Linked DNA regions of Homo sapiens: all the other regions are linked to region 1. Evidence: fine-mapped expression QTL. A gene starts in region 1. Each other region holds a variant in brackets. All regions are shown on one strand. Distances are between the middles of the regions. Region 1 holds the start of RHOXF1-AS1 (RHOXF1 antisense RNA 1). Region 2 overlaps RHOXF1-AS1 (RHOXF1 antisense RNA 1). Region 3 overlaps AKAP14 (A-kinase anchoring protein 14). Region 4 has its middle 2.6 kb from the start of NKAP. Region 5 overlaps RHOXF1-AS1 (RHOXF1 antisense RNA 1). Region 6 overlaps TMEM255A (transmembrane protein 255A). Region 7 has its middle 33 kb from the start of SLC25A5-AS1.

Region 1 (4,203 bases):
ACAGATCGTGTTCTCTGACTTTGGGCTCCTACTAACCTCCGTTGTCATGGCCCCCACTACTGAATGAAATATTGGCAGTGATGTGTTTTCCATGTGCAGCCCCACTTGCCTTTGCCTCCAAGCCCTGACAGGAATTGCAATAGTTATGGCCATCTTAGTGAGAAATATAGAAGACCATGGACCCATCTGATGACCAACACCTAGTACTGTTGTTTCCCAAAAAACAATGTCAGCTGCCTAGGGGAGAAAAAGAATAATTGCCATCATTGCTGAGCTTAAGGAAGCCAAAATGTTTCATGAGACTGTTTCTCCATTCAATAGCCCCATCTGGCCTGTGCACAAGACCTTGGTTTCTTGGAGACTTACCACTGATTTTAGGCAGCTCAATGCGTAATACCACCTTTGGCACCAGCAGTACCTGACATTGTGACTATTACAGAGGCCCAAAACAGAGAGAACTTGGTATGCAGCAATTGATATTGCAAAGGCATATCAAATTGTAGTCCCCAGTGTTGGAGATGGGGCCTGGTGAGAGGCGATTAGATCATAGGGGCAGATTTCCCCTCTAGTTTTGTTCTAATGATAGTGAGTAATCATGACATCTGGCTGTTTAAAAGTGTAGCATCGGCTGGGCATGCCCTCAGCCTCCCAAGTGTCTGGGATTACAGGCACTTGCCACCATGCCCCGCTAATTTTTGTATTTTTAGTAGAGATGGGGTTTTACCATGTTGGCCAGGTTGGTCTTGAACTCCTGACCTCGTGATCTGCCCACCTTGGCCTCCCAAAGTGCTGGGATTACAGGCATGAGCCACTGTGCCCAGCCTAGTCTCTAGCTTTTAACTGGATCTCAGCTCTGGGCAGAGCCCACGCTGAATCCTGGATCTCCAAAAGATAGAATTATCATGATTCTAGACCATGTGATGCATTTGCACTGCACTTTGTTACAAAGACTTTCCTCTAAGTGTCTAAAGTATACCTTTTCTTATCTTAAACACCCGAAGAGTAGCCTCTGTTGTAATAACTTAGTCCAAAAATCAGGTAACACAGTACAAAAGCAAGCAGTTTAAGATCTGAGAGGAACTTGTCTGTTTAGACTCTTGGGGTTCCATAAGGAAAAACAGATGTTTCTCCTCAAAAAGGACTCTAGTGCCTTCTCTGTTTTATTTAAGGAATTACAGGCTGTTAGAAACTATTTTGGGTCCCTCATGCAGCAGAGGGGAACAAGAGAAAGGAGAGATAGGCAGAAGTAAATGGAGAAAACAGAATTCATTTGACTGACTGAGAAGGAAAAAACCTTTTTCTCAAAAAACAAGGTACTAGGAGAGAAAAAAAAAACAGGCCAGGCACGGTGGCTTACGCCTGTAATCCCAGCATTTTGGGAGGCTGAGGAAGGCAGATTACCTGAGGTTGTCGGGAGTTTGAGACCAGCCTGACCAACATGGAGAAATCCCATCTCTACTAAAAATACAAAATTAACTGGGTGTGGTGTCGTATGCCTGTAATCCCAGCTATTTGGGAGGCCGAGGCAGGAGAATTGCTTGAACCCGGGAGGTAGAGGTTGCAGTGAGCCAAGATCGCACCATTGCACTCCAGCCTGGGCAACAAGAGTGAAACTCCTTCTCAAACAAACAAAACAAAACAAAAAACCATAAAGGCCTTTTAAATATACACACACACACACACATCGTGGATATTAGCTTTTAATTAAACTGACTTTTAGCCACTAAGCTCTTAAAAAATTCTTCTAAATCTCACTACCCTATTTTAGCTGGAACAAATTGCTGATATTTCAAAAATAACACAAATATCAAACCAGAAAGAACTTGATTTAGGAACCAAACCCAGGCTGTTGTGGTGGAAAAAAGGGCAAAACCTTAGCTACAGAACTGCAGTGTGGAGCACAGTTTGGCTTGGCTAGCAAAAGGTGGCCTTGTTATGTAAATAAAGCCCCTCAGGTAGTCAAAATCTTTCTTTTTTCCTGTTGATGGCTGTTTATCCTTTTCCCTTTTCCCCCCCAGCTGCAGGAATTTACCCAATGCAGAGGCGTTGTTCCTCACCATTTGTAACTTTCCTTCACATTTGATATAGTTGGGTAGAGTTAGTCAAATCCAATGGGAAAAAGACCAAAACAACAAAACAAACAAATAAATGAAAAAACAGTTTGGCAAAACAAACAAATGATCATACTATGTATACAATTCCTGAGCACTCTAATGGTAAGGAGAAATTAAGAGCTGCTGGTTGTTAATCTTAACTTTAGGTCATTAAGGAGAATTTTCAAGATAAAACCCCAATTCAGCTACTTACCTAGGAATGGAGTCCAGGCTCAACACTGCTCTCTACCAGCCTATAAGCAGGAAAAAAACTCCAACTCGCCTTCCCTGTTGGAATTGAGCTGAAACTCCAGAAAGGAGTTGCCTGCCCTCCATCATCATGGAAGCAGGAAAACTCACCTTCCTTGTTGAAAGTGAGTAAAACTCCAGAAAAGGAGTTGTACAGCAAAAAAAAACCTTAGATATCGACCAAATTTGGGGAGATCAGGGTGAGGGAAGAGACGGACCCTCTCATATTGTTTTATATTGTTTTATACTCAGTACCTGTTTTAAGAAAAAAACAAGGAAGTGAAACCAAGGGCAGGCAGCCAGGCACCAGACCCAAAACCAGAACTGAAACCAGGCCTGGGCCTGCCTGGCCTAAACCTAGTAGTTAAAAATCAACTCATGACTTAGCAACCGATGTTATCCATAGATTCCAGACATTGTATGGAAGAACGCTGTGAAACTCCCTGCTCTGTTCTGTTTCACTCTGACTACCGGTGCATGAAGCCCCTGTCACATACCCCCTAGATTGCTCAATCAATCACGACCCTTTCATGTGAAATCTTTAGTGTTATGAGCCCTTAAAAAGGACAGAAACTGTGCACTCGAGGAGCTCGGATTTTAAGACAGTAGCTTGCCGATGCTCCCAGCTGAATAAAGCCCTTCCTTCTACAACTCAGTGTCTGAAAGATTTTGTCTGCAGCTCGTCCTGCTACAAGGGATTGTCTGGAGGGGGGAAGTTCCCAGGCCTCAGCAAATCTGCCTATTGATTTGAGCAATAAAGATATCTCAAGCTGGTACCAAGCAGTAATAGAAGATTTGTCAAAGGTCAGGGGCACCTCCACTCAGAATCCCTTGGTGGTTACCAATTTGTAAACCAAAAAGTATCTGAGCTAGGTCTCAATTAACTTGGAAATTTTATTTTACCAAGGTTAAGAACATGCATCTGGAAGGCAGGTCTATGCCTTTTTCCAAAGAAGATTTTGTGGACTTCAGTATTTAAAGGCAAAAGGGCAGATATTGGGGGAAAAGGAAAAAAAATTAAAGGTGTGGGTAGATAACAGACAAATGGTTGCATTATTTTGAGTGTTTGATAAACCTTTCACTGAATACACAGTTTACATGTGAGAGAAGGGTAGAGGAATAGTTACTTATGCCTTTGTCAGCTCAGTGAATCTGCATTTTTACATTAGGAAAGCAATCAGATATGCATCTGTCTCAGATGAACAGAAGGATGACTTTGAGTTCTGTTCTTTGTCTAGAACCTGTGAAGATAAGCTATCAATTTACATTGTCAGGGTAAAATTCAACAGAACCATTTTAAGGTAAACATCTTGGGGCTCAAAAGGAATGTCCCAGTGGACAAATTGTGAGACATGTATGTAGCTTTTTTTTTTGTTTGTAGCTATCTTATTTAAGAATAAAATGGGAGGTAGGTTTGCCTGATGCAGTTCCCAGCTTGACTTTTCCCTTTGGCTTAATGATTTTGGAGTCCTGAGATTTATTTTCCTTTTACAAGACATTACCATTCCAAAAGAATGAATATGGGAGGCATAAAGTGGTTTCTTGTCCCAAGTAAGTTCAAAATTTAGCATGGCAGGGCCAGGTGTGGTGGCTCACGCCTATAATCCCAGCACTTTGTGATGCTGAGGTGAGTGGATCACTTGAGGTCAGGAGTTCGAGACCAGCCTGGGTAACATGGTGAAACCCCCCTCCTCGTCTCTACTAAAATACAAAAATTAGAGGGGCATTGTGGTGAGTTCCTGTCATCCCAGCTACTCAGGAAGCTGAGGCAGGAGAATTGCTTGAACCTGGCAGGTGGAGGTTGCAGTGAGCTGAGATTGTACCACTGCACTCCAGCCTGCGTGACAGAATGAGATTTCAT
Region 2 (4,203 bases), 66 kb before region 1:
TCCACTATGGTTGAACTAATTTACACTCCCACCAACAGTGTAAAAGCATTCCTATTTCTCCACATCCTCTCCAGCATCTGTTGTTTCCTGACTTTTTAATGATCGCCATTCTAACTGGCATGAGAAGTTATCTCATTGTGGCTTTGATTTGCATTTCTCTAATGGCAAGTGATGATGAGCTTTTTGTCATATGTTTGTTGGCTGCATAAATGTCTTCTTTTGAGAAGTGTCTGCTCATATCCTTCAACCACTTTTTGATGGGGTTGTTTTTTTTTTCTTGTAAATTTATTTAAGTTCCTTGTAGATTCTGGATATTAGCCCTTGGTCAGATGGGTAGATTGCAAAAATTTTCTCCCGTTCTGTAGGTTGCCTGTTCACTCTGATGATAGTTTCTTTTGCTGTGCAGAAGCTCTTTAGTTTAATTAGATCCCATTTGTCAATTTTGGCTTTTGTTGCCATTACTTTTGGTGTTTTAGACATGAAGTCTTTGCCCATGCCTATGTCCTGAATGGTATTTCCTAGGTTTTCTTCTAGGGTTTTTATGGTTTTCAGTCTTACATTTAAGTCTTTGATCCATCTTGAGTTAATTTTTGTATAAAGTGTAAGGAAGCAGTTTCAGTTTTCTGCATATGGCTAGCCAGTTTTCCCAACAAAATACCTAGGAATACAGCTAACAAGGGATGTGAAGGACCTCTTCAACGAGAACTACAAACCACTGTTCAAGGAAATAAGAGAAGACACAAACAAATGGAAAAAAAACATTCCATGCTCATGGATAGGAAGAATCAATATTGTGAAAATGGCCATACTGCCCAAAGTAAAGAGAAAAAGAGTCTGGTATTCTAGAGGGAGATTAAAAACAGATGCCAAATCAAACATAAAATTGTAAAAATCTATCATAGGATTGTATAAGGGGACCAATTTTATCAATATAGGTAGTTTTAAATTTAGTCTCTTACTATTTAACTGGATCTCTGAGGTCTGAGGCAGAGCCCACACTGAATTCTGAATCTCCAAAAGAGAAATTTTCATGAGCCTAGAACATGTGATGCTTTTATAATGCACTTTCTTTGTGAAGACATTTCTCTTAGTGTCTAAACTATACTCTTTCTGATTTTAAACACCCAAGAATAGCCACTGTTGTAATAACTACTTTAGTCAAAACAAAATCAGGTAACAATACAAAAGCAAGCTATTTAAGATTTGAGAAGAACTTGTCTGTTTATACTCTTAAGGTTCCATACGGAAAAACAGAGGTTTCTCCCCAAAATGGAGTCTGGCACCTTCTCTGTTTTCTTTAAGGAATCTCAGGCTGTTAAAAACCATTTTAGGTCCCTCATGCAGCAGAGAGGGGCAAAAGGAAGGAGAGACAGGAAGAAAAATGGAGAAAACAGAATTCAGTCAACTGAGAAAAACAAAACTTTTTCTACAAAAAAAATGAAGTTCTAGGAAAAAAAACCATAAAGGCCTTTTAAGTGGACACACACACACACATACACACACACACACACACACACACACACACACCCAAAATCTTCAATATTAGCTTTTTAATTAAGCAGATTCATAGCCATTGAGCTCTTCCAAAAAAAAAAATCCTTTTAAGCCGGGTGTGGTGCCTCACACCTGTAATCCCAGCACTGGGAGGCCAAGGTGGGTGGGTCACTTGAGGTCAGGAGTTTGAGACCAGCCTGGCCAACATGGTGAAACCCTGTCTCTACTAAAAATACAAAAATTAGCCTGGTGTGGTGGCACATGCCTGTAATCCCAGCTACTCAGGAGGCTAAGGCAGGAGAATTGCATGAACCCAGCAGGCAGGTTGCAGTAAGCCGAGAATGTGCCACTGTACTCCAGCCTGGGCAACAGAGCAAGACTCCATCTCAAAGAAAAATCCTTTTAAATCTCATTGCCATATTTTAACTGAGACAAATTGCTCATACTTCAACAGTAACATAAATATGAAACCTGAAAGGACTTGATTTAGGAACCAAACCCAGGGTGTTGTGGTGGGAAAAAAGGGCAGAACCATAGCTACTGAACTGCACCATGGGACAACAGCTGTTGCTCTTTCAGTTTGGCTTGGCTAGCAAAAAGTGGCCTTGTTATGTAAGTAAAACCCCTCAGTAGTTAAAATCTTTCCTCTTTTTCCCCTTTGCTGGTCATTTTTTCTTTTTCCTTTTTTTCCC[C/T]AGCTGTGGGAATTTAGCTAATTCAGTGGCATTGTTCCCCATAATTTGGAAATTTCCTTCAGATTTGACTAAGTCTGATAGAGTTTATCAAATCCAATGGAAAAAAGACCAAAAGAAGAACAAAAATAGAAACAAACAAAAATAGTTAAGCAAAACAAACAAAAAATTGCACAACTTATACAATTACTGAGCACTCTAAAGGTAAGTAGAAATTAAGAGCAGCTGGTTGTTAATTTTAACTTTAGTCATTAAGGAGAATTTCCAAGACAAAATCCCAATTCAGTTACTTACCTAGGAATGGAGCCCAGTCTGAAGATGGCTCTCTACCATCCTAGAAGCAGGAAACAACTTCAACTCACCTTCCCTGTTGGAAGTGAGCTCACACTCCAAAAAGGAGTTGCCTGCTCTCCATCAACATGAAGCAGGACAATTCACCTTCCTTGTGTAAAACTCCAGAAAAGGAGTTGTACAACAAAATAAACCTTAGATCTCAGCCAAATTTGAGGAGATCATGGATTCTCTGAAGGGGGAGCTCCCAGGACTTCACAAATTGTCCTATTGGTTTGAACAATAAAGATAGCTCAAACTGGTACCAAGCACCAATAGGAGATTTGTCAAAGGTTAGGGGAACCTCCACTCAGAAGCCATTCCTGGTTACCAACTTGTGAACCAAAAGTATCTGAGACAGGTTCCAATCAATTTAGAAAGTTTATTTTACCAAAGTTAAGGATGCACCCATGACACAGTCTCAGAAGGTCCTAATGACATGAAATGTAGCAGGACGATCCACAGACAAAACTCCTCAGGCACCAGGTTAAAGACGGAAGGAGCTTTATTTGGCCAGCAGTGTCGGCAGACTCATGTCTCAAAAACCGAACTCCCTGAGTGAGCAATTCCTGTCCCTTTTAAGGGCTTACAACTCTAAGGGGGTCCACATGAGAGGGTCGTGTTCGATTGAGCAAGCAGGGGATATGTGACTGGGGGCTGCATGCACCAGTAATCAGAACAGAACAGAACAGGACAGGGATTTTCACAATGTTTTTCCATACAATGTCTGGAATCTATAGACAACATAACCAATTAGGTCAGGGGTCGATCTTTAACTACCAGGCCTGGAATGCAGTGCTGGGCTGTCTGACTACTGATTTCACTTCTGTCTTTTAACTCCTACTTTTTCTTTGAGGCAGAAATTGGGCATATGACAATATGAGGGGTGGTCTCCTCCCTTATTCCCCCCTTTGAGAACCTCACTCATTAGTGGGAGTTCTCACTTTCATCCTCACTACCCATGTCTTCTTGCAAGACAGATCAATAGTGATTTATATAGTACACCTGTGCTGAAGCATTTTGGTGAACTAAGGTAGCGGTGAAGCTTTTTATTACTTGTAGGAGTACAGGTAGCAAACAAGGGAGTAGTAAGCAGGTTCTTATTGCTATTATAATTTTTATTATAAGAGTTTTAAATGCTCTTAGCCCTAGAAACCATTTTCCAAACATGGCTCCAGGATTAAGTCCATGCCATACTTGCATGGGCACATGTGCCAGTTTTGTCATATCTTTTTGTCTTCAACTACTTGCCCTTGATCATTTATGTGCAAACAGCAATTGGTTAGGTAAAATTTTCCACAGACTCCTCCTTCAGCTGCTAGCAAGTAGTCTAGGACTAGTCTATTTTGATAGATAGCATTTCTCATCTGGGTTTTTGCTGGGCTAAAACAGTTAAAGCTCTGCCAGTTTTATTAGTGATTACTTCTCAGACAGCTTATAACCGTATGATTCGGTTGATAGTATAAATGGGGGTTGGGTATCCCCATGAGCCATCTTGTGCCTAAGTGGTAGGCCCATAGTACTGTATGATTCTTTCAGGGGGCCACTTGTCATCTTTCCAGTCGCCTATAGCTATGCTTCTCTTTTCTTGGGAAGCATAGACTGGGAAGCCTAGAAGTTCGCCTGTTTTTATGGGCAGTAGGAAAAAGGATGGGTTATAGCACACATCAGGCTGGTCACTTCCTGGTCT
Region 3 (4,120 bases), 130 kb after region 1:
TTTTTGTATTTTTAGTAGAGACAGGGTTTCACCATGTTGGTCAGGCTGATCTTGAACTCCTGACCTCACGTGATCTGCCCACCTTGGCCTCCCAAACTGTTGGGATTACAGGCGTGAGCCACCATGCCCGGCCAATATTAAAACATTTCTAACAGGGCTGACTTATCTGTAAGGCATAGTAAGCTCAATACCTAGGGCCCACAAAAAAAATGTGTTCATTTCTTTTAAAATTAGAAGAAAAAGGCCGGGCACAGTGGCTCACGCCTGTAATCCCAGCACTTTGGGAGGCCGAGGAGGGCGGATCACCTGAGGTCGGGAGTTCGAGACCAGCCTGACCAACGTGGAGTAATCCAGTCTCTACTAAAAATACAAAATTAGCCCAGCGTGGTGGTGCATGCCTGTAATCCCAGCTACTTGGGAGGCTGAGGCAGGAGAATCGTTTGAACCCGGGAGGCGGAGATTGTGGTGAGACGAGATTGCGCCATTGCACACCAGCCTGGGCAACAAAAGCAAAACTCTGCCTCAAAAAAAAGAAGAAGAATATATGAATTTTAGGGTCATGATTATATTCATCTTTATACCAGTGCTGTCTTGAATTTTTTCATCTTTTGAAGGAGAAAGGGGGATACAAAGGGAAGAGTGCCTAGGGCCCACAGAAGTCAAAATGCATCCCTGATTCCTGGCACAGGGCCTTAGATTTCACAGGTATTCAACAAATTCAATTCAACTGAACTTCCTTGGGCTGGCTCTCAGGGCACCAGAAGCTTCTGAATCAAAGAAGAGCCTGAATTAAGATGAAGGTTCACAGAAGGAAGGAATTGGGAGAGTCTAACAAGTCCCAGTAATGTGGAGAGGGAGTACAGGAGACATCAAAAAGATTTCAGGCCCTCCTTTAAAAAAAATGTAGGCTGGCCTTTTGCCTCAGCTTATTTCAAACTTGTACCCAATTGGCTGTTTCAGTCCAGAGAAGAGCACTGGACTCGAGATTCCTTGAGATCAGGAGCTGTGTATTCTTTCATGTATCATTATTCCTTTTTTCTGAGACAGGGTCTTACTCTGTCACCTAGGCTGGAGTGCAGTGGCACGATCATGGCTCATTGTAGCCTCAACCTTCCCGGGCTTAAGTGACCCTCCCGCCTCAGCCTCCCAAGTAGCTGAGACTACATACAGGCATGCACCACCACACCTGGCTAATTTTTATATTTTTTGTAGAGATGACAGTCTCCCTATATTGCCCAGGCTGGTCTCAAACTCCTAGGCTCAAGTGATCCACTGGCCTCGGCCTCCCAAAGTCATTATTCCTTCCTTTTTTTTTTTTTGAGACGGAGTCCCTCTCTGTCTTCCAGGCTGGAGTGCAGTGACGTGATCTCGGCACACTGCAACCTCCGCCTCCTGGGTTCAAGCGATTCTCCTTCCTCAGCCTCCTGAGTAGCTGGGATTACAGGTGCTCACCACCACGCCCAGCTAATTTTTGTATTTTTAGTAGAGATCCAGGCTGGTCTTGAACTCCTGACCTCAGGTAATCCACATGCCTCGGCCTCCCAAAGTGCTGGGATTATAGGCACGAGCCACCACGCCTGGCCCCAAAATCATTACTCCTTTTAATGAAGGGGCCCAACAGTCAACCCCTTATGGCTCATTGGAGCATGCCTCTTTTTTTTTTTTTTTATGTTTTTGAGATGAAGTCTTGCTCCGTCACCCAGGCTTGAGTACAGTGGCGTTTTCTCGGCTCACTGCAACCTCCGCCTCCCGAGTTCAAGTGATTCTTCTGCCTCAGCCTCCCGAGTAGCTGGCATTACAGGTGTGCACCACCACATTTGGCTAATTTTTGTATTTTTAGTAGAGATGGAGTTTCTGTGCTCGCTTCGGCAGCACATATAGTAGAGACGGAGTTTCACCATGTTGGCCAGGCTGGTCTCAAACTCCTGGCCACAGGTGATCCACCTGCCTCGGCCTTCCAAAGTGTTGGGATTACAGGCATGAGCCAC[C/T]GCACCCAGCCAGAGCATGCCTTTTTTTTCAACTGTTCTATATTACTCAATATACTTTTCTAGCCCTAATGTTTAATCTGTCACACAATCACAGACTTTATAACATTGAATAGGTCACTAGAGATAATCTAATGCAGCCCTTCACTTTGCAGATGAGGATACCAGGGCCTAGAAGTAGGTAGGGACAGTCTAACACAATAAACTGGGACTGGTACCCAGGACTCCTGAGCAGCCCGCTCAGTGCTTTCTCCACCCCACTAGAAGCCTCAGTTCTAAGAGTTTCTTCTTCTCAGCTTGGCTCTTAGTGGATTTTTCCTCCCTTTTGTGAATGAAGGCAGCCTTACACATGACATTAAATTTAACTATTTTCATCAGGCGAATCTCCTCCCATTTTTATCCGTGTGCAGGCAGCAGACTTTTATGTATCAGCAGTGAGTGTGTTTTGTGATTTTTACATGATACTGCTTCATATACTCACTTCCAGGAAACAGTATCTCACTGTACTACTTGATCATGGATGGCTTAGCCAACTACATACTACTGGACACTCACAATCAACAGACACATAGAAGTATATGCACAAGGCAAAAAACAATGAAAAAGTATATGCACAAAACTGTTATCCATGGTTAAGTGACCTTTGGGGTAATAGAAACGGGTATTTTGGGTAATTTCATTTTCTAATTTGTATCTTTTTGCTCACTGGGCATTTTTTATAGTGATGTCTTTTTTTTATTATAAAAGTAATTTTAACTGTCTGAGGTGATGGGCATTCTCTGATTTTTCTTTTATAAGGAACCCATTTGTATATTCCTGTTGCCAGACTGTGTTCCTGAAGAGAATGAACCAACTTTGCCATTGGCAATGTGTAAGTGTTCCCTCCCCACAACTATACCATCCTATACCATCCTTCTTTTTTTTTTTTTTTTTTGACAGAGTCTCACTCTGTTGCCCAGGCTGGAGTGCAGTGGTGCGATCTCAGCTCACTGCAACCTCCGCCTCCCAGGTTCAAGTGATTCTCCTGCCTCAGCCTCCCAAGCAGCTGGGATTACAGGCACACACTACCACACCCAGTTAATTTTTTTGTATTTTTGTAGAGACAGGGTTTCACCATGTTGACCAGGCTGTTCTCAAACTCCAGACCTCAAGTGATCCGCCCGCCTCGCCCTCCCAAAGTGCTGGGATTACAGGCGTGAGCCACCGCGCCCAGCCTGTACCAGCCTTCTGATACCAGGTTTAATTATTCGTATTCACATTGTAGTACCTTAAAATCATTTGAATTTGTATTTTTAAATGATAATAAAAGTCTGCATTATTTTTGTCATCCAAAAGTACTTTTCCTGGGTCAGTAGAAGCTGATGAGAAAAAACAAATAAGAAAAAAAAATACTTTTCCTACTGTGGTGGAAAGAATATATCAGATAGAACTGACTGGGTGCAGTGGCTCACACCGGGTGCAGTGGCCACTGCCAGTGGCTGGCAGTAATCCCAGCACTTTAGGAGGCCGAGGCAGGAGGACCACTTGAGGCCAGGAGTTCAAGACCAGCCTGAGCAACAAAGTGAGACCTCATCTCTACAAAAAAATAAAAAATTTACTCGGCCATGGTGCTGTGTACCCATAGTCCTAGCTACTCAGGAGGCTGAGGCAGGAGGATCACTTGAGCCCAGGAGTTTGAGGCTGCAGTGAGCCGAGATTGCGCCACTGCACTCCAGCTTGGGCGACAGAGCAAGACTCTGTCTCAATAAATAAATAAATAAATAAATATTTTTTAAAAAGAATGTATCAGGCCAGGCACAGTGGCTCACGCTTGTAATCCCAGCACTTTGGGAGGCTGAGGTGGGCAGATCACTTGAGGTCAGGAGTTTGAGACCAGACTGGCCAACATGGTGAAACCCCATCTCTACTAAAAATGCAAAAATTAGCCAGGCATGGTAGCATGCACCTGTAGTCCCATCTACTCGGGAGCCTGAGGCAGGAGAATCCCTTGAACCCAGGAGGCAGAGGTTGCAGTGAGCCAAGATGGTGCCACTGCACTGCAGCCCTGGGTGACAGAGCAATGCCCTGTCCCACAAAAAAAAAAAAAAAATCAGACAGACATATGATCATAACTTTGTTTTGCTGCTCAATCAGAG
Region 4 (4,203 bases), 90 kb after region 1:
AGAAGTAGTAGCAATTCATTATCAGAGAAGAAATGCAGATAAGTGAGGTGTTAGAGGAACTGACAAAGCCAGCACGCCAGTTAAGTTATCAGGGATCACAGGTCTGTATTGACTAAGAAGTATTCTAAAAGAAAATTCTTTTTAGAAATTATGTAGTTCGGGTTTTGATCCTGCAAATTCTTTCAAAAGAGGTTAGTGATTAAAAACATTGTTTTAATCTCGCAGTCTCTAAAACAATTGTTGGCATAATTGGAAAGCATCCTCAAATTCAAATGGACACAAACTACAAGAGTCCCCCTAACACCCACTCCTTAAATTCCATTTCCACAACCCAGATCCCTGCCTCAGTCCGCTGGGTGTTAGCCATGCACCTGCCCAGACAGCTGCAGAGTCTCAGACTTTGAAGAGGAGTAGTGAATGGAAGCTGAATACCTCCATATCCCATAACACACAAATGGTTTAATTCCTGTAGAGAATGGATCAGGTCAGGTGAGGTGGCTCACGCCTGTGATCCCAGCACTTTGGGAGGCCGAGGTGGGCGGATCACTTGAGCTCAGGGGTTCCAGACCCACCTGGGCAACATGGCGAAACCTTGTCTCTACCAAAAATGTCAAAACTTAGCCAGGCATGGTGGTATGCGCCTGTTGTCCCCGCTACTCGGGAGGCTGAGGTGGGAAGATCGCTTGAACCCAGGAGGCGGAGGTTGCAGTGAGCCAAGATAGTGCCACTGCACTTTAGCCTGGGTGACAGAGTGAGACCCCCATCTCAAAAAAAAAAAATTTAAAGAAGAATAGGCCAGGCGCGGTGGCTCATGCCTGTAATCCCAGCACTTTGGGAGGGTGAGGCAGGCGGATCATGAGGTCAGGAGTTCAAGACCAGCCTGGCCAACACAGTGAAATCCTGTCTCTACTAAAAATACAAAAATTAGCTGGGCATGGTGGCGCATGCCTGAAGTCCCAGCTACTTGGGAGGCTGAGGCAGGAGAATCACTTGAACCTGGGAGGCAGAGGTTGCCCAGGCTGGAGTGCAGTGGCAGGACCCAAACTCTGCAAGCCTGATCCCACTGGCTGTCTGCACCTCCCTGTGTGCTCTAGCTCCCCCTCACTGCCAACTCATGAAACACAGGCTGCTCCCAGGATACCTGGCAAGAAGAGCACCATGCCATTCAGATGTGCAGGAGTAGGGGTTTTCTCTTTCCAACTAAAGTACATGTCCACCAGCCATGGGGCAGGTAGACCAATCACTGTTGCAGAGTTGGTTTTATAGGCAACTGATGTGAAGGTGTACTGCCTGTTGTCGCAAAAGTTAGGCAGTAGGTTTTCCATTGAAAACTTTCTTATTAGAAATTCTCCCCAATCTCCATCCCAAATCACAGAATTTCTCTTACTCGATTAAGTTTTTGGACCTGGCCCCATGACAAATTAGTTATACATAGAAGATATCCAATAGTGTGGTCCACTCTTTCCATTTAACATTATTTCATACGTCTTTCCCTTAAATTCCAAAAAAAGGAGATTTCTGATAATCAATTGGCATTAATTTTCATGATCTGATAAATTACTTCTTAGGAAAATCCCAGAGGCCATCATGCTACTGGCAGGCTGGACTTGGAATTTCTTCAGCAAACCTATGTACCTTCAAAAATCCAAATTGAGGGCTGTGCATGGAGGCTCACGCCTGTGATCCCAGTACTTTAGGAAGCGGAGGCCGGCAGATCATTGGAGGTCAGGAGTTTGAGACCAGCCTGGCTTACAGGGTAAAACCCAGTCTCTACCAAAAATACAAAAATTACCTGGGCATGGTGGTGGGCACCTGTAATCCCAGCTACTTGGGAGGCTGAGGCATGAGGACTGCTTGAACCCAGGAGGCAGAGGT[T/C]GCAGTGAGCCAAGATCCTGCCACTGCACTCCAGCCTGGGCAACAGAGCAAGACTCTGTCTCAAAAAAAAAAGTCGAAATCAGTAGAATTAATGTTGGAATGCCCTTTGATTTAAAAACAGTAGAGGCCTAGGTGCAGTGGTTCAAGCCTGTAATGACAGCACATTGAGATGCCGAGGTGTGAGGATCACTTGAGTCCATGAGTTCAAGACCAGCTTGGGCAACATGGCAAAACCCCATGTCTACAAAAAATTTAAAAATTAGCGAACCATGGCACATGCCAGCTACTCAGGAGGCTGAGGTGGGAGGATCCCTTGAACTCAGGAGGTGGAGGTTGCAGTGAGCCAAGATCACACCACTGCACTCCAGTCTGGGTGAGGGAGCCAGACACTGTTTCACAAAAGAAAAAAGAAAAGAAAAACAGTATAAAATGAATAGAAATGCTGGGCGTGGTGGCTCACGCCTGTAATCCCAGCACTTTGAGAGGCTGAGGCGGGCGGATCACAAGGTCAAGAGATCAAGACCATCCTGGCCAACATGGTGAAACTCTGTCTCTACTAAAACTACAAAAATTAGCTGGGCATGGTGGCACGCCCCTGTAATCCCAGCTACTCAGGAGGCTGAGGCAGGAAAATAGCTTGAACCCTAGAGGCAGAGATTGCAGTGAGCCAAGATCACGCCACTGCACTCCAGCCTGCTTACAGAGCGAGACTCCATGTAAAAAAAAAAAAAAAAAAAAAAAAAGAATAGGAATACTGATCCTTAACTCTATATTGCTGGGCTGGCATACAATGAGACTAGTTTAAGGAGCTGGACAAAGAGGGGATTACAAATTCCTTTTGCTGGATAGATAATAGAGGCTGGGTAGGGTATGTGGGAGGAAGCAGAAGGATGAAGAGAAATAGGTTAAAGGGTACAAACATACAGTAAGATAGAAGAAATAAATTCAATGGTTTTTGTTGTTGTTTTAAGACAGTGTCTCACTCTGTCGCCCATGGAGTGCAGTGGATCAATCACGGCTCACTGCAACTTCGATTTCCGGGCTCAAGTAAGTGTTCCTCCCACCTCAGTCTCCTGAGTAGCTGGCATGCACCACCACACTCGCCAAATTTTTAAATTTTTTGTAGAGACAGGGTCTCCCTATGTTTCCCAGGCTGGTCTCCAACTCCTGGGCTCAAGTGATTGGCCCGCCTCGGCCTCCCAAATTTCTGGAGTTACAGGTGTAAGTCACCATGCCCAGCCCCAAATTCAATGTTTGATATTGACAGCATGGTAGAGTGAGAGTACACTATTTTTTTTTGGAAACACAGTCTCACTCTGTTGCCCAGGCTGGAGTGCAGTGGTGCAATCTCACTCTCGGCTCACTGCAACCTCAGCCTCCCGGGTTCAAGCGATTCTCGTGCCTCAGCCACCCTAGTAGCTGAGATTACAGGCACGTGCCACCAGGCCCAGCTAATTTTTGTATTTTTAGTGGAGACAGGGTTTCGCCATGTTGGCCAGGCTGGTCTCAAACTCCTGACCTCAAGTGATCCACCCGCCTCTGCCTCCCAAAGTGCTGGGATTACAGACGTGAGCCACCATACCAGGCCGAGAGTACACTTAACAAAAATGTATTGTGCTCAGATAATGGACACCTTAAATACCCTGACGTCATCACTACACATTATATACATGTAACAAAATTTCACATGTATCCCATAGATTTGTACAAATTTAAAAAATAATAAAAAATTAGCTGTGCATGATGGCACATGTCTGTAATCCCAGCTACTCAGGAGGCTGAGGCAGGAGAATCACTTGAACCTGGGAGGCGGAGGTTGCAGTGAGCCAGGATAGCCACTGCACTCCAGCCTGGATGACAGAGGGAGCCCTTGTCTCAAAAATAAAAAAATAAAAAATAAAATGACACTTTTTGGGGAAAAAAATACAAGCCAGACGCAGTGGCTCACACCTATAATCCTAGCACTTTGGGAGGCCGAGGCTGGCGGATCGCTTGAGCCCAGGAGTTCAAGACCACCTGGGCAACAAGGTGAAACCCTGTTTCCCCCGACCCCCCTCAAAAAAAAAACTACCCAGGCTTGGTGTCGCATGCGCCTGTAATCCCAGCTATTCAGGAGGCTGAGGTGGGAGGATAGCTTGAGCCCGGGGAGGCGGAGGTTTGCAGGGAGCTGAGATCTTGCCACTGTACTCCATCCTGGGCGACAGAGTGAGCAGAGTGAGTTCCAGTCTCAAAAAAAAAAAACCTCCTTTTGCTGGGGCATATTGGTGGAGACGGTGGCTAGGGGATAAGTATGCAGTTTTTCTCTAGGCGGGAAACTTAATTGAAGTT
Region 5 (4,203 bases), 100 kb before region 1:
AAAAACACCTTCAAATAAGGAAAAGGAACAGGCTATCCTAATGCTTGCTTGGACCAGTATAAGCATGCCAGGGCAAATATTTAGGCTAAATTGTGGAAGCTAAGAACATAAAGTACATTGATTTCTTTATTACAGCTCACAGATATTTAAGAATGTTAGCCCAGGTCTTTGAATAAATTTTGCTTCTAAGAGAAGTTACTATTTCTTCCTAATTAGATGGGGAGGAAAGTCTTTGAAGAGGAACCTCTACTTTACTTTTCACAATCATGAAATGAAATTAGAAACCAATAGCAGAAGGGAAACTGGGAAATTCACAAATATGCGGAAATAAATAATATGCTGTTAAACAACAAATGGATTGAAGAAGATATCACCAGGGAAACTAGAAAATACTTAGAGATGCATTAAAATGAAGACACAAACTCCCAAAACCTATGAAATGCAGCAAAAACAATGCTCAGAGGAAAATCTATACCTAAAAACACCTACATTAAAAAAGAAGAAATGTGCAAAATCAATAATCGAACTTACACATTTAGAAACTAGCAAAGGAGAGGAAACTAGACCAAAGCTAGCAGAAGGAAGGAAATAATAAAGAATGGAGACAAACAAAATAGAGAATAGGAAAGCAATATAAACTATCAGCAGATCCAAAATGTGGTTCTCTGAAAGATCAACAAAGTTGACAAACTTTTAGCCAGACTAACAAAAGAGGGAATATCAAAAACTAAAATAAGAAATGAAAGAGGGGATAATACTGGTAAAAAAAAAAAAAAAAAAAAAAAAAAACCAGACACATAGACCAATGGAAAAGAATAGAGAGCCCAGAAATAAAGCTGCACACCTATGGCCATTTGATCTCTTACAAACTTGACAAAAATAAGCAATGGGGAAAGGACTCCCTATTCAGTAAATGGTGCTGAGATAGCTAACTAGCTATATGCAGAAGAATGAAACTGGGCCCCTACATATCATATACAAAAATTATCTGAAGATGGGTTATCATATACAAACATTTTATCATATACAAAAATTAACTGAAGATGGGTTAAAGATTTAAATGTAAGATATCAAACTATAAGAACCCTAGAAAATCTAGGAAACACCATTCTGGACATCAGCCTCAAGAAAGAGTTTGTGAGTAAGTCCTCAAAAGCAATTGCAACAAAAACAAAAATTGACAATTGGGACCCAAGTAAACTAAAGCACTTTTGCATAGCAAAAGAAGCTATAAACAGAGTAAATAGACAACCCACAGAATGGGAGAAAATATTCACAAACTATGCATCCAACAAAGGCCTACTATCCAGAATCTATAAGGAAACAATTCAAGAAATAAAAAACAAGTAACTCCATTAAAAAGCAGGCAAAAAACACATGAACAGACACTTTTCAAAAGGAGACATACAAGTGGCCAACAAACATTTGAAAAAATGTTCAATATCACTAATCATCAGAGAAATGCAAATCAAAACCACAATGAGATACCATCTCACACCCATCAGAATAGCTATTATTAATAAATCAAAAAACAACAGATGCTGGTGAGGCTGCAGAAGAAAGGACACTTACACACTGTTGGTGGAAATGTCAATTAGTTCAGCCACTTTGGAGAGCAATTTGGAGAATTCTCAAAGAACTTAAAACAGAATTATCATTTGACCCAGCAATCCCATTACTGGCATACATCCAAAAGAAAATAAACTGTTCTACCAAAAAGACACATTCACTCATATATTCATCACAGCAATATTCACTGTAGTGAAGACATGGAATCAACCTAGGTGCCTATCAATGGTGGACTGGATAAAGAAAATGTGGCACACATACACCGTGGCATACCGTGCAGACATAAAAAGAATGAAATCATGTCCTTTGCAGCAACAAGGATGCAGCTGGAGGCCATTATCCTAAGTTAATTAACATAGGAACAGAACACCAAATACTGCATGTACTCACTTATAGTGGTAGCTAAACATTGGGTACTCATGGACATAAAGATGGCAATAATAGGCACTAGGGACTGATGGGGGGAGGTAGGGAAGGGGGCAAGGGTTGAAAAACTAACTGTTGGGTACTATGTTCACTAGTATCCCATCC[G/A]GATGACAGGACCATTCAGATCTCAAACCTCAACATCATGCAATATACTCATGTAACAAACCTGCACATGTATCCCCTGAATCAAAAATAAAAGCTGAAATTATTTTTTTAGAAAAAGAAGAGGGGATGTTACCACTGATTTGACAGAAATAAAAAGGATTATAAGAAAATACTATGAACATTGTATTTCAACAAATTAGATGCCCTAATACATTGAAAAACAATTCCTACAAACACACAAACTACCAAAACTGACTCAAGAATAAATAGAAAATCTGCAAAGACTTATAACAAGTATGATATTTGACAATAGTGCCAAACCATTCAAAGTGAAACCACTTCCTCTGGGGCAATACCTGTAGTTAGTTGTCTCGCGCCGATGATTAACAACATGGACACACACGTGGAGTGGGTTAAGGAGCAGAAAGTTTAACAGACAAAAAGGAAGAGAGATAGAATAAGCTTCCTCATGCTGAGAAAGCGGGTCACCTGAGAGAGGGTTTCTGGGTTAGGTGCAGAACGTGATCAATTTTGTACAAAGGCTTGAGGAGGCGGTGATTGATTTACATAGAGCCCAGGGGATTGGTTTGACCAGGTGCTCCATTTACACAGTCCATGAAAAGACTGGCCCTCCAACCCTAATCTTTTATTATGCAATTATGGCTTCTATCTGACTGTCACCATGACACCTGCACATGTGACTTTACCTGGCTAGTGCCATGACACCCGCACACGTGGCCACAAAGAAAAGGGAGCGAGAATCGCCATATTGAATGTACCTGGCTTCCAGGTACAGCTGATGGCATTTACATATGAAAGCTAGCTTGCATAGCTATGCTTGCAGCTTGAAGTTTCAGGCTGCTTTCTGTTAGAAAAGAAATGGTTTGGGGGCTGCTTTTTATTAATGGAAAATTCCACCAAGAACTCTTTACCCTTTCTAATTGCCTAAAATAATTTTTAATAACTGCTGTATTAAAAGGATATGTGTACCGAAACTAAGCCAAAACACAACTTTAATAGGCTTAAGATCTCTGTGTGTTTGCTCCTAGACAAAACAAATGGGGTACAGAACAAACAAAAACATGTTGATAGGAGAGAGAATGGATCATGGTCTTTCATAGAGCATTCTGTGCTTCTGGACTCAGAAAAGCTGTCAGACACCTGTTTATGGTTTATTACAGCTACAGAAAACACATTAAAAACAGCAAAGGAAAAAGGTATCACTTGAAGAGAGCAGATATTCACATTTCAAATTAAATACTTCAGGAAATCCAGTTTAAATAATTGAAAGCAAAACTCAAATGCCAAAAGTGGGTAAATATTTAGTCATATTTTCTTGTAAGTTTCTTTAGATTAATTGTTGATATTATTGTTGCTGCTGTTGAATATCCATTGTCTTCCTATCCTTAACACTACAGGAACACAAATACGTCATTGTAGATATATTAGCGTAAGCCATTCCCTACTCTTCTAACCAATTCTGAACTCTTAACCGTGTGATTTCAAATAAAAAATTTTCCCACGATATGCTCTGTAGTAAAGATATAAATAGGTTTGTAACAATGACATTTGGGGAAATTTATCAGGGCTTTACATGTATTTACATAATAGAAACAGGCAGAGAATGCTTAAGGACACTAATCCCATTTGTGAAGACTCTACCCTCATGACCTAATAACCTACCAAAGGCCCCACTTTCTAATACAATCACATTAGGGGTTAGGATTTCAACGTATGAATTTGGCGGGGACACAAACATTGAGTCTATAGCACTGTCATATACTAGTGTTCTGTAGCAGATTAGCAAATTTATGAACACACAGTTTCACAATTTCTAGAGGAATATGCTTCCTCATTGTATAATTTTTCATGTTCATTAACAGAACCAGATGTATTTAGCTTCACTATATCATATAAAAATAAAACACCAGGCCGGGCACGGTGGCTCATGCCTGTAATCCCAACACTTTGGGAGGCCAAGGCAGGTAGATCATGAGGTCAGGAGACTGAGACCATCCTGGCTAACACAGTGAAACCCCATCTCTACTAAAAATACAAAAAATTAGCCAGGCATGGTGGCACGCACCTGTAGTCCCAGCTACT
Region 6 (4,203 bases), 230 kb before region 1:
GACCGAGGCAACAAGGAATTCTTCAAGAGAATGCAGGGATGTTGAAGCTAAAACAAGGAAGGTCATCATTCTCTTGGGGTCCCTATAATAAAAAGTCATCCTTAAATAGAGGAGCCACACATGGGTCTAGCCCAAGAGGCCTCCTCTACTTTTATATCAAAGTAAATTACATTGATTTCAGGAATTTGCACTTTATAATGAACCCTTTAAGTAGGGACAATAATACATCTGGTGATGGTTACCACAAATTATAAGATAGGAAACCTCTCTTTTGGGTATGGAGCCATCATTCCTCATTCAAATCCTACCCCAGAAATGAAAGCAAGATTGAGAATGCCAACGGTGACTTGGATTGTTGGTTTCAGTTCAATCAATGTTTACTCTGTGTTCCATGTGCCACGCATTGAGCCAGGAGCTGTGGAAATAGAAATTAAATGAGACAGTCCCTGCGTTAGTCTAGGGACTTGGGGGTGGGGGGTCAGGGGACAGTAGTGGGGACAAAAAAGTAAAGAAAACATTACCCAGAATGCTATGGAAACAGCATACCTAACCCAGAAAAGGGATCCAGATTTAGCTACCTAGTCCAAACCTATACTATGGGCTTGTAGCAGAGACTTTGGGGATTGTTAGAAGCCTCTCCTTTTTTTTTTTTTTTGAGACAGAGTCTTGCCCTGTCGCTCAGGCTGGAGTGCAATGGCACAATCTTGGCTCACTGCAACCTCCACCTCCTGGGGTCAAGCGATTCTCCTGCCTCAGCCTCCCGAGTAGCTGGGATTACAGGTGCGTGCCACCATGCCCGGCTATTTTTTTTTTTTTTTTTGTATCTTTTGTAGAGACAGGGTTTCACCATGTTGGCCAGGCTGGTCTCAAACTCCTGACCTCGTGATTCACCCGCCTCGGCCTCCCAAAGTGCTGGGATTACAGGCATGAGCCACCGTGCCTGGCCCACCCTTACTTTTTAATAACAGCTACTATTCACTGAGTACTTACTATGTACTAAGCATTGTGCTAAGTGCTTTACATATATCATCATTCAATCATTTACCTCTTTAAGAGAAGTACTCTTGCAATTGCCATTTTTAAGATAAGATGACTGAATCATGGAGAGATTAAGTGACTTCACCAAAGTCACAGAGGTGGTAAGTGAAAGAGTAAGGATTTATATCTAGGGCTGACTGATTCCAGAGATTGGGTTGGGGGATTTTTGAAGTTGTGAATCTAAGCGGAGCACAGCTCTTTCCCCAGTTAATTTTGGGATATTTATACTTTCTACTGGATATTTATACTTTCTACTGGACTCATGGTCCTCAGAAAGGGTCTCTTTACTCTTGATCCCCACTGAAAAAGGATTCCCTTCCTTCATGCATTCCTCAGAGGGGAATTCAGGGGCTGCTTGGACACTTTTTATATGTCTCCCACTTCTTTCCCTAGGCTCAAGATGTCTTTAGTATTTCCTGTTTGAAGACTTTATAATTGTATAGCCTAAGTCTTGAGGGGGTAAGATTTTAAGTGATTTCTCTCTAGAACTTAAATGGTTTCATTTTAGTATTTTAGTTTAGCTTTCTTTTGCTCACCAAGTTTCATTCCCTTATAGTTTCATAGGCGAAAATACCATTCTTTACACAAGAAAGTCAGCCAGGCGCGGTGGCTCACGCCTGTAATCCCAGCATTTTGGGAGGCCAAGGCGGGCGATCACCTGAGGTCGGGAGTTCGAGACCAGCCTGACCAACACGGAGAAACCCCATCTCTACTAAAAATACAAAATTAGCTAGGCATGGTGGTGCATGCCTGTAATCACAGCTACTCAGGAGGCTGAGGCAGGAGAATCACTTGAACCCAGGAGGTGGAGGTTGTGGTGAGCCGAGATCACGCCATTGCACTCCAGCCTGGGCAACAAGAGAGAAGCGCTGTATAAAAAAAAAAAAAAAAGGAAAGTCAAGAGGGCAGGAAACGTCTGCTTATATTCCCAGATAAATAAAAAGGAGTCAGCAAATGCACTCCAGATCTGACAATAAAACCACCTGAAGCACAGACCCACCCCCAAAAGGCCAGAGCTCCCTCATGCTCTTCTGATTGTAAAATGACCTAAGTTACAGCCAGAAAATGGACCTTTCTAGACTTTCTTCTGAATGACTTCCCATTTTGGTTATTTCCAAGTAGGACTATTTCTGTGACTTTGGGTTTGGTGATTTCAACTTCCTTTTGACCCTGAGGCTAATAGGAGGATGAGGAAAAAAGACTTATAATGTTTTGTTTTAACCCCTCAAAGTCATACCCTTATTGGGTAGCTGTCCAGTGAGGAAGCTTGGGAAACACTTCTTGTGGTCAGACATGAGCAAGGATTTGGGTCTGATCAGC[T/CT]GGCCCTGAGGAAGTTTTGAGTGCTGAGCTTAGAGAAACTGGATTCTTTCAAACACTGGGCTCCAGGGTGTCCTTGCTTCTCAGGAACTCCTCATACTCCAAAGCAGGAAGGATATAAGCTGAGACTACCTTTGCCTCCTCGCTCATCTGTCCAACACTCATTTCTCTTGTCCTTTGCACTATTTCCCCACCACCCCTTCAGCTTTAGCCAAGTAGTCCAAAATCTGTAGGGTACAAAGCATCAGTTTTCACTTCTGCTGGGAAATTAAACCCAGCTATTTATAAACCCCTCAAGGTTCCCAGCAATATTTCCCAGTCTGGCATACTGGGCCAGTACCCCTACTTTACTCTAACCATGGAATGGTCCCTTTCCTATCCATTTGGTGACCAGCCAAGTTTAAGCTTAAAACGAAAGTCTCAACCTATGCAATTCAAAAGTGCCTCTATTTTTCCTCTTTATTTAATCACGAGGGTACACTAGGTTTCACCCTAGCCACTAAAAGTTACTCATTATAAATTGGGCCCATTTATTAAAAGGATTGCTTTGATCCTAGGAGGGTACAGTTTATGGCACAGGTTGCTGAGAGCCTTAGAAGGCTGTTGTTGCTATCACTCAACTTTTTCTTCCCCCCGCCACCCGCCCGCCACCCCGCTGTCAAGTCTTTCCTTTCGTCCCCTCCTTTCCCTTGTTCCTGACTCATCCTTTTTTTTTTCCTCTTTCTTTTACCCACTCTTCTCTCCATCTCCCTAGCCTTTGCTTCCAGGGGCAGAACAGAGAGGGAATGCACAATACCGACAGATGCTGGGATTTTACCCTTGGGACACAGTGTCTTTAACTAGTAATTATCACCAGCCAGTTCCTGGGCTCTTTGTGAAGTCACTGTCCCACAAGGCTCCTGGAGAGAAGCATGCCCTGACGGAAATGCGCATTGATCTTGAAGGGTGTGGGTCAGCCATCAGGCAGGCAGGAGGCAGGCTAAGGTGGAAGAGGAAAGCCATCTGTGTCCCTGAAAGGGTGGTGCTCCTCTTCAAGCACCATCAGCCTGTTGGCCACCCCAGCCTCTAAGAAGCCGCTCAGGAAGCTGGAGCTGACTAGGCCCAGCAGTAGGCTATTTAGATGCTCTTCGTGCTTGGTGGTGCACAAGGATTCAAAGTTCTGTTCTCCTGAGCTGCCCACAGCATTATTAAAGTCACACTCTCAGGCAGGAACCAGAATACACCAGGCCAACTCCCTGGCTGCGACAAAGCCAGATCTTTCCCAAGGTGCCTGCCTGTTGCTAGGAAACTATGCACTGGTACTATGGGCCTTTTCCCCCGCTAAACCCCAAGGGTGTGTGGACTGCAGCCAGTTAGCTCCCTAGCTCTGCCAGGAACCCTTCAGCTTTATCCTTAAGACTCCCAGCATCCTCAAAGGGAAGTGAGAATCATGACCCCCTCCCCCCATACTTCTCAAACACAAAACTAAGAAGTGAAAACCCAAGGGCCGTTGTACCACCCCCTTTTATTATCAAAGTGTACAACTGCCACCCACAGCAGCTGCTGCCCACAGAAGCCTTTTAATGCCTCTCAGGACAGAACTGCCTTTAGCTTCACTTCAGGAAACTTGCCTCTCCCTTCTGTGGCTGGGAACACCTAAAACTGGCCTGCTGCCTCTCATGTCATCTCTGTAGTGGGATTTAGAGAGGCAGTGAGTGCCATATGCCCAGGCACAGAGATTCTTTGCCCTGGTGGGTCTTTGTTCCCCTCTCTGGTTAAGAGGAGAGAGTTCTTAGTTGAGGAAAGCAACAGAACAGGAGGGAGGGAGAGGAGGAGGAAGGGAGAGTTTGAAGGGTGCAAGATGGAAAA
Region 7 (4,203 bases), 530 kb after region 1:
CTAAAACTACAAAAAATTAGCCGGGCGTGGTGGCACATGCCTGTAATCCCAGCTACTTGGAAAGCTAAGGCAGGAGAATCGCTTGAACCCGGGAGGCAGAGGTTGCGGTGAGCTGAGATCGTGCCATTGCACTTCAGCCTGGCAACAAGAGCGAAACTCCATCTCAAAAAAAAAAAAAAAAAGTAAAATGATTAGGAGATGATGAGTTTTGGGACATTGATTACCTTAGTTTTTAATATAATTTATTTAATTGTAATTTTATATATTTTAAAATAAGTGCTATGCTTAATGACTGACTCACAAAACTTCTGAAAATATAGCATCTGGCTCTCATGGGCCAGAGGGAGCCAGCTCCAGCACATACCCGGGGCCAACTATATTTCCAAGTCCTGAATGACCCTCATCCCTACTCCCATGCCCCTTTGCCATTCATTCAGGACCCCATAGCCCACCGCCTTTGATGGGAGCTCCTGGATTCCAAAGCAAACCCTAGCTGGCACCAAAGCCTCACTGCCACCTTGAGCGAGAGTTCTGGCGACAGATTGACAACAGTGGCTTTTCCATGGGTGGGTGGCCTCTTTTTGCCTGGGAAGGGGTGGAAGAGAGCCAGGGACACTTGCATTGACTCTGGAATGCACACCTGGCAAGCACTCAAGTCTAAGAGGAAGAGAAAGATCAAGGTGTGAGTGCAGGGGAGCTCTGGCTCAGCCCTCTGTCAACTTGGCCCTGCTCCTGGCTGGGCTGAAATTGACTTCGGAAGGCTTTCCAGAAAGGCTGGTGATGCTGGAGACTGTGGGCTGGGGGGCAGGGCAAACATTTCTCTTCTGCCTCCAGGATGTTACTCAGAGCTCTGGAAGCTACTCCCAAGGGTGATCCAGTGTTTGCCCTTGAAGTCTACATTTTCGGCCCTATTTCCTTTTCAGCAGTAGAAGTGGCTGGCAGTGGAATTTGGGTCTGGGCCTCGTGCTGAGTGGCTGTCGGCTTTGGAATCTGACCCTCCCTGGTGGAAAAAGCTGGGCCAGCATTTGGGGCAGTCCTCAGCGTGCAGGCCCTATATGCTGTCTACTTTGGGCCACACGCACTTGGCTTTGCTCCTCAGGTAACCCCTGGGAAACCTATCAGGTGCAACTGCTCTGATGCAGTTGGGGCAGTGTTGTGATGGGCTGCTGTGATGTCACTGCATGAATGAAGGTTCTGTGTTTGCACCTAGGCTGGCAGCTCTCCAGGGGCACAGTCCTCAGCCCCACCCTAGCCAGCACTCAGTAGAAGGACCAGCCCTCAGAGACTGGCTGAATGAATTGATGAGTACAAGCCTGGCTGACATTCAAGATTTCTTCCTGGTGAAACAGAAGCACAGTGTGGAGTCCTGTGTGGAAGCTCTCATCTTGACGTCTTGTACAAAGAGTGTCCTTCATTATTGCTAACACTAGAGGGGAGGGGAACCTCACTAATCCCCCCCTGCCCGACACGTACAAACACACAAAGGTTTCTACTAGCCGGATGTTCTGTAACCAGGAAGTTCAGATGCCTTTTTTTTTCTCCCAGTCTATGAGAAAAGTCACCTCTGTCCCCACCCACATGCGCACTGCTACACGCTGTGCCTACCAAGGCTGGCAGAAGTGTGCTGGCTGGGAGTGATTTGCTCTTGGCATCAGCCTGAGAATATCCTGTGCGGCTGAGAAGGTGGTGCTGCCCTCTCTGCAACACAGGGATTGGGAATTGATCGGGGCGAGGGGGCACACACTAAGGACTCAATGCACTCTGAAAGGGGAGGGCTCCAACATCAACAGAATTACAAGTGCTCCACTCCCTGCCATGCCCCCTGCATCCCAGCATTCACACACATCCTCCCGCAGATGCTGTCTGACACTATTCACAGGGGTTTGGAAAAAAGGGAAGGCCTGCCATAAAGTCTGCAAAGAGGTGTGACTATGGAGTTTCAGTAGGAAAAAAATCTCTGGGGGACCACAATTCCTATT[G/T]TCCTTATGGCTATGGATCATGGTTATGGTTATGGACAATTAAGGAGGCGATGTAAAAATCACTGTCCAGGAACCCTCCCTGCATGTCCCCGAGGATGACACCTCCACACCCTTGTCAACATGTCCTGGGCTTAATGACCCTGTGAGTGCACCTAGCTTTGAAAGTTCTGGTGTTTGCACGTGTGTGTGTGTGTGCGCGCGCACACGTGTGTGTGTGTGTGAAGGAGAGAGAAACAGTGAGAGAGAGAAAATTAATACTCTTGTTTCCAGACTAGACTTTGCTTCTGTGCTCGAAACACACACACTCCCATCCAAGTGCCTCCTGGACAGCCCCACTTACACATCCTATAGGCAACTCAAATTGAATCTACCCAACACAACTTGTCATCCTTTCCTTCCCCCTCAAACTCACAGTTTGTCCTGCCTGATGATCCCTTTCTCAATAAGTGGCACTGCCACTCACCTACCTGGCCAAGCAGGAAATCTGGGCACACCCTCGTCTCACACTCCCATAGGCCTAGTCATCAAGTCAGGCCTGTTCTAGCCTTCACGTTTTCACTTCAACAACCTCGCTCTCCATGCACGGTCACTACTTCAGGTCAGGCCCCCATCTATGTGGAAGTGCAGCAAGGCCTCCTGATGAGCTTTCCTGCCTCTAGTTCCCCCACTATCCCCACCCCCCCCTCCAATCCATTCTCAACCCTCTCAACAAACCAGTCCCGAAGGAAGTGCCCAAGGCAGCAGGAAGCAGACCTGCCTGACAAGTCTTTCTCTCCAGGTTGTAGGTGCCTGATGTTCCCCCTTATTCCAGTAGTTTCTGGGGACAGCACTGCCATATTAGCTAGCTCACCACTCTAGGTTATCTGATTCACCCTACTGGCATTGGCAGAAAGGAAGGAATGTGAACTGAGAAGAAAGTTTTGAGGCTGGGCGCGGTGGCTCATGCCTGTAATCCCAGCACTTTGGGAGGCCAAAGCGGGCGGAATACCTGAGGTCAGGAGTTTGAGACCAGTCTGACCAACATGGTGAAACCCCATCTCTACTAAAAATACAAAATTAGCTGGGCATTGTGGCACATGCCTGTAATCCCAGCTACTCAGGAGGCTGAGGCAGGAGAATTGCTTGAACCTGGGAAGTGGAGGTTGCAGTGAGCCGAGATCGCGCCACTGCACTCCAGGCTGGGCAACAAGAGCAACACTCCGTCTCAAAAAAAAAAAAAAAAATTGACACCAATGAGGAAGTCAGGGGAAGGCCCAGAGAAGGGTAATGCGCATGTCCATAGGACCAGAGGGGATTTGTGGGGAGTGGCTTCCTGAAAAGGTGTGGGCTGGGTTCTGAAGGGACAGCCCATGAGGAAGCCTGGCCCTGAAGAAGGCAGGGCCAGTGGAAGGGAGAGGTCTCAGCTTGCCAGCTCCTGCCATGACAGGTGACTGTGCTTCCCTCCCAAGGTCTTTCTGTGGGGAGAGCCAGCAAATAGCTCTCAGGGGGAGAGTTATGATCTCCCAGAATGTGGTGTCCAGGCTTCCTTCCAGGAGGGAGAAAGAAACTGGCAAGAGGAAATTTGGGGGTGGGGTTGAAAAAGGGCTCCCATTCTCCCACTCAAGACCTATGACCTGAAAAGTTGACAGAGCCACGCATTTCTTCCTCTGGGTGGGCGGATCCTGATCGTCTTCAGAGTCTGAGGGAGGCTTTTTCTCTTACAAAACTCAAGTCTCTTCTTAACCCCCATCCTCTAGGCCAGCTGGAGAGACAGCCCCCTATAAGATATAGCTTGCACCAACCCCTCTCCAGTCCTGCAAGGTGACATTGAAGCCCGTGCCCTTCTGTGGCCGCCTCTGACATCTCCAGGACACTGCCGCAACCAGTTCTCCAGGATGTGACACCACCAGACTTCTTGAGAAGAGCCCACCGTGCCTCATTCATCTTTGTATCTGTACTATGATGTGTCGCTCAAACATAACCAGAGCTAAGAAGATGACCACCATGCATCCTTCTACTCAGCCTGCAAAATGCCCATCTTTTCTCTATCCTGGTACTTCCTCCAAGGTCAACCCCTTCCCCTACACCCTTTTCGTTTTTTGTCCTGTGTTTGCTTTTTGGAGACAGGGTCTTGCTCTGTTGCCCAGGCTGGAGTGCAGTGGCGTGATCATGGCTCACTGAAACTTGACTTCCTGGGCTCAATCGATCCTCTCACCTCAGCTTCCAGAGTAGCTGGGACTACAGG

What was found.
Region 2: its variant is fine-mapped to the expression of RHOXF1-AS1 in whole blood (TOPMed, PIP above 0.99).
Region 3: its variant is fine-mapped to the expression of RHOXF1-AS1 in hypothalamus (GTEx, PIP 0.97). The same link has a PIP of 0.9 or more in whole blood.
Region 4: its variant is fine-mapped to the expression of RHOXF1-AS1 in whole blood (TOPMed, PIP above 0.99). The same link has a PIP of 0.9 or more in amygdala, anterior cingulate cortex, caudate, cerebellar hemisphere, cerebellum and hippocampus.
Region 5: its variant is fine-mapped to the expression of RHOXF1-AS1 in thyroid (GTEx, PIP above 0.99). The same link has a PIP of 0.9 or more in tibial nerve and transverse colon.
Region 6: its variant is fine-mapped to the expression of RHOXF1-AS1 in cerebellar hemisphere (GTEx, PIP above 0.99). The same link has a PIP of 0.9 or more in nucleus accumbens.
Region 7: its variant is fine-mapped to the expression of RHOXF1-AS1 in cerebellar hemisphere (GTEx, PIP 0.96).

What each region holds. Positions count from the first base shown.
Region 1 is chrX:120,034,637-120,038,839 of GRCh38, reverse strand. It overlaps RHOXF1-AS1 (RHOXF1 antisense RNA 1), which reads right to left and starts at 2,604. Exons shown (of 5, transcript NR_131238.1): 1 at 2,308-2,604.
Region 2 is chrX:120,100,446-120,104,648 of GRCh38, reverse strand. The region is part of intron 1 of RHOXF1-AS1 (RHOXF1 antisense RNA 1); the gene reads right to left. Among named protein-coding and RNA genes, the nearest start is that of RHOXF1, 13 kb to the left of the region's middle. The variant C/T (reference allele first, on the strand shown) is at 2,187.
Region 3 is chrX:119,907,084-119,911,203 of GRCh38, reverse strand. The region is part of intron 4 of AKAP14 (A-kinase anchoring protein 14); the gene reads right to left. Among named protein-coding and RNA genes, the nearest start is that of AKAP14, 13 kb to the right of the region's middle. The variant C/T (reference allele first, on the strand shown) is at 1,989.
Region 4 is chrX:119,944,219-119,948,421 of GRCh38, reverse strand. No RefSeq gene overlaps it. Among named protein-coding and RNA genes, the nearest start is that of NKAP, 2.6 kb to the right of the region's middle. The variant T/C (reference allele first, on the strand shown) is at 1,876.
Region 5 is chrX:120,139,103-120,143,305 of GRCh38, reverse strand. It overlaps RHOXF1-AS1 (RHOXF1 antisense RNA 1), which reads right to left. Exons shown (of 5, transcript NR_131238.1): 3 at 4,187-4,203. Among named protein-coding and RNA genes, the nearest start is that of RHOXF2, 17 kb to the left of the region's middle. The variant G/A (reference allele first, on the strand shown) is at 2,101.
Region 6 is chrX:120,262,606-120,266,808 of GRCh38, reverse strand. All of the region lies in intron 8 of TMEM255A (transmembrane protein 255A), which reads left to right. Among named protein-coding and RNA genes, the nearest start is that of ZBTB33, 14 kb to the right of the region's middle. The variant T/CT (reference allele first, on the strand shown) is at 2,359.
Region 7 is chrX:119,500,228-119,504,430 of GRCh38, reverse strand. No RefSeq gene overlaps it. Among named protein-coding and RNA genes, the nearest start is that of SLC25A5-AS1, 33 kb to the right of the region's middle. RefSeq lists a silencer at 671-965 and an enhancer at 3,421-3,500. The variant G/T (reference allele first, on the strand shown) is at 1,980.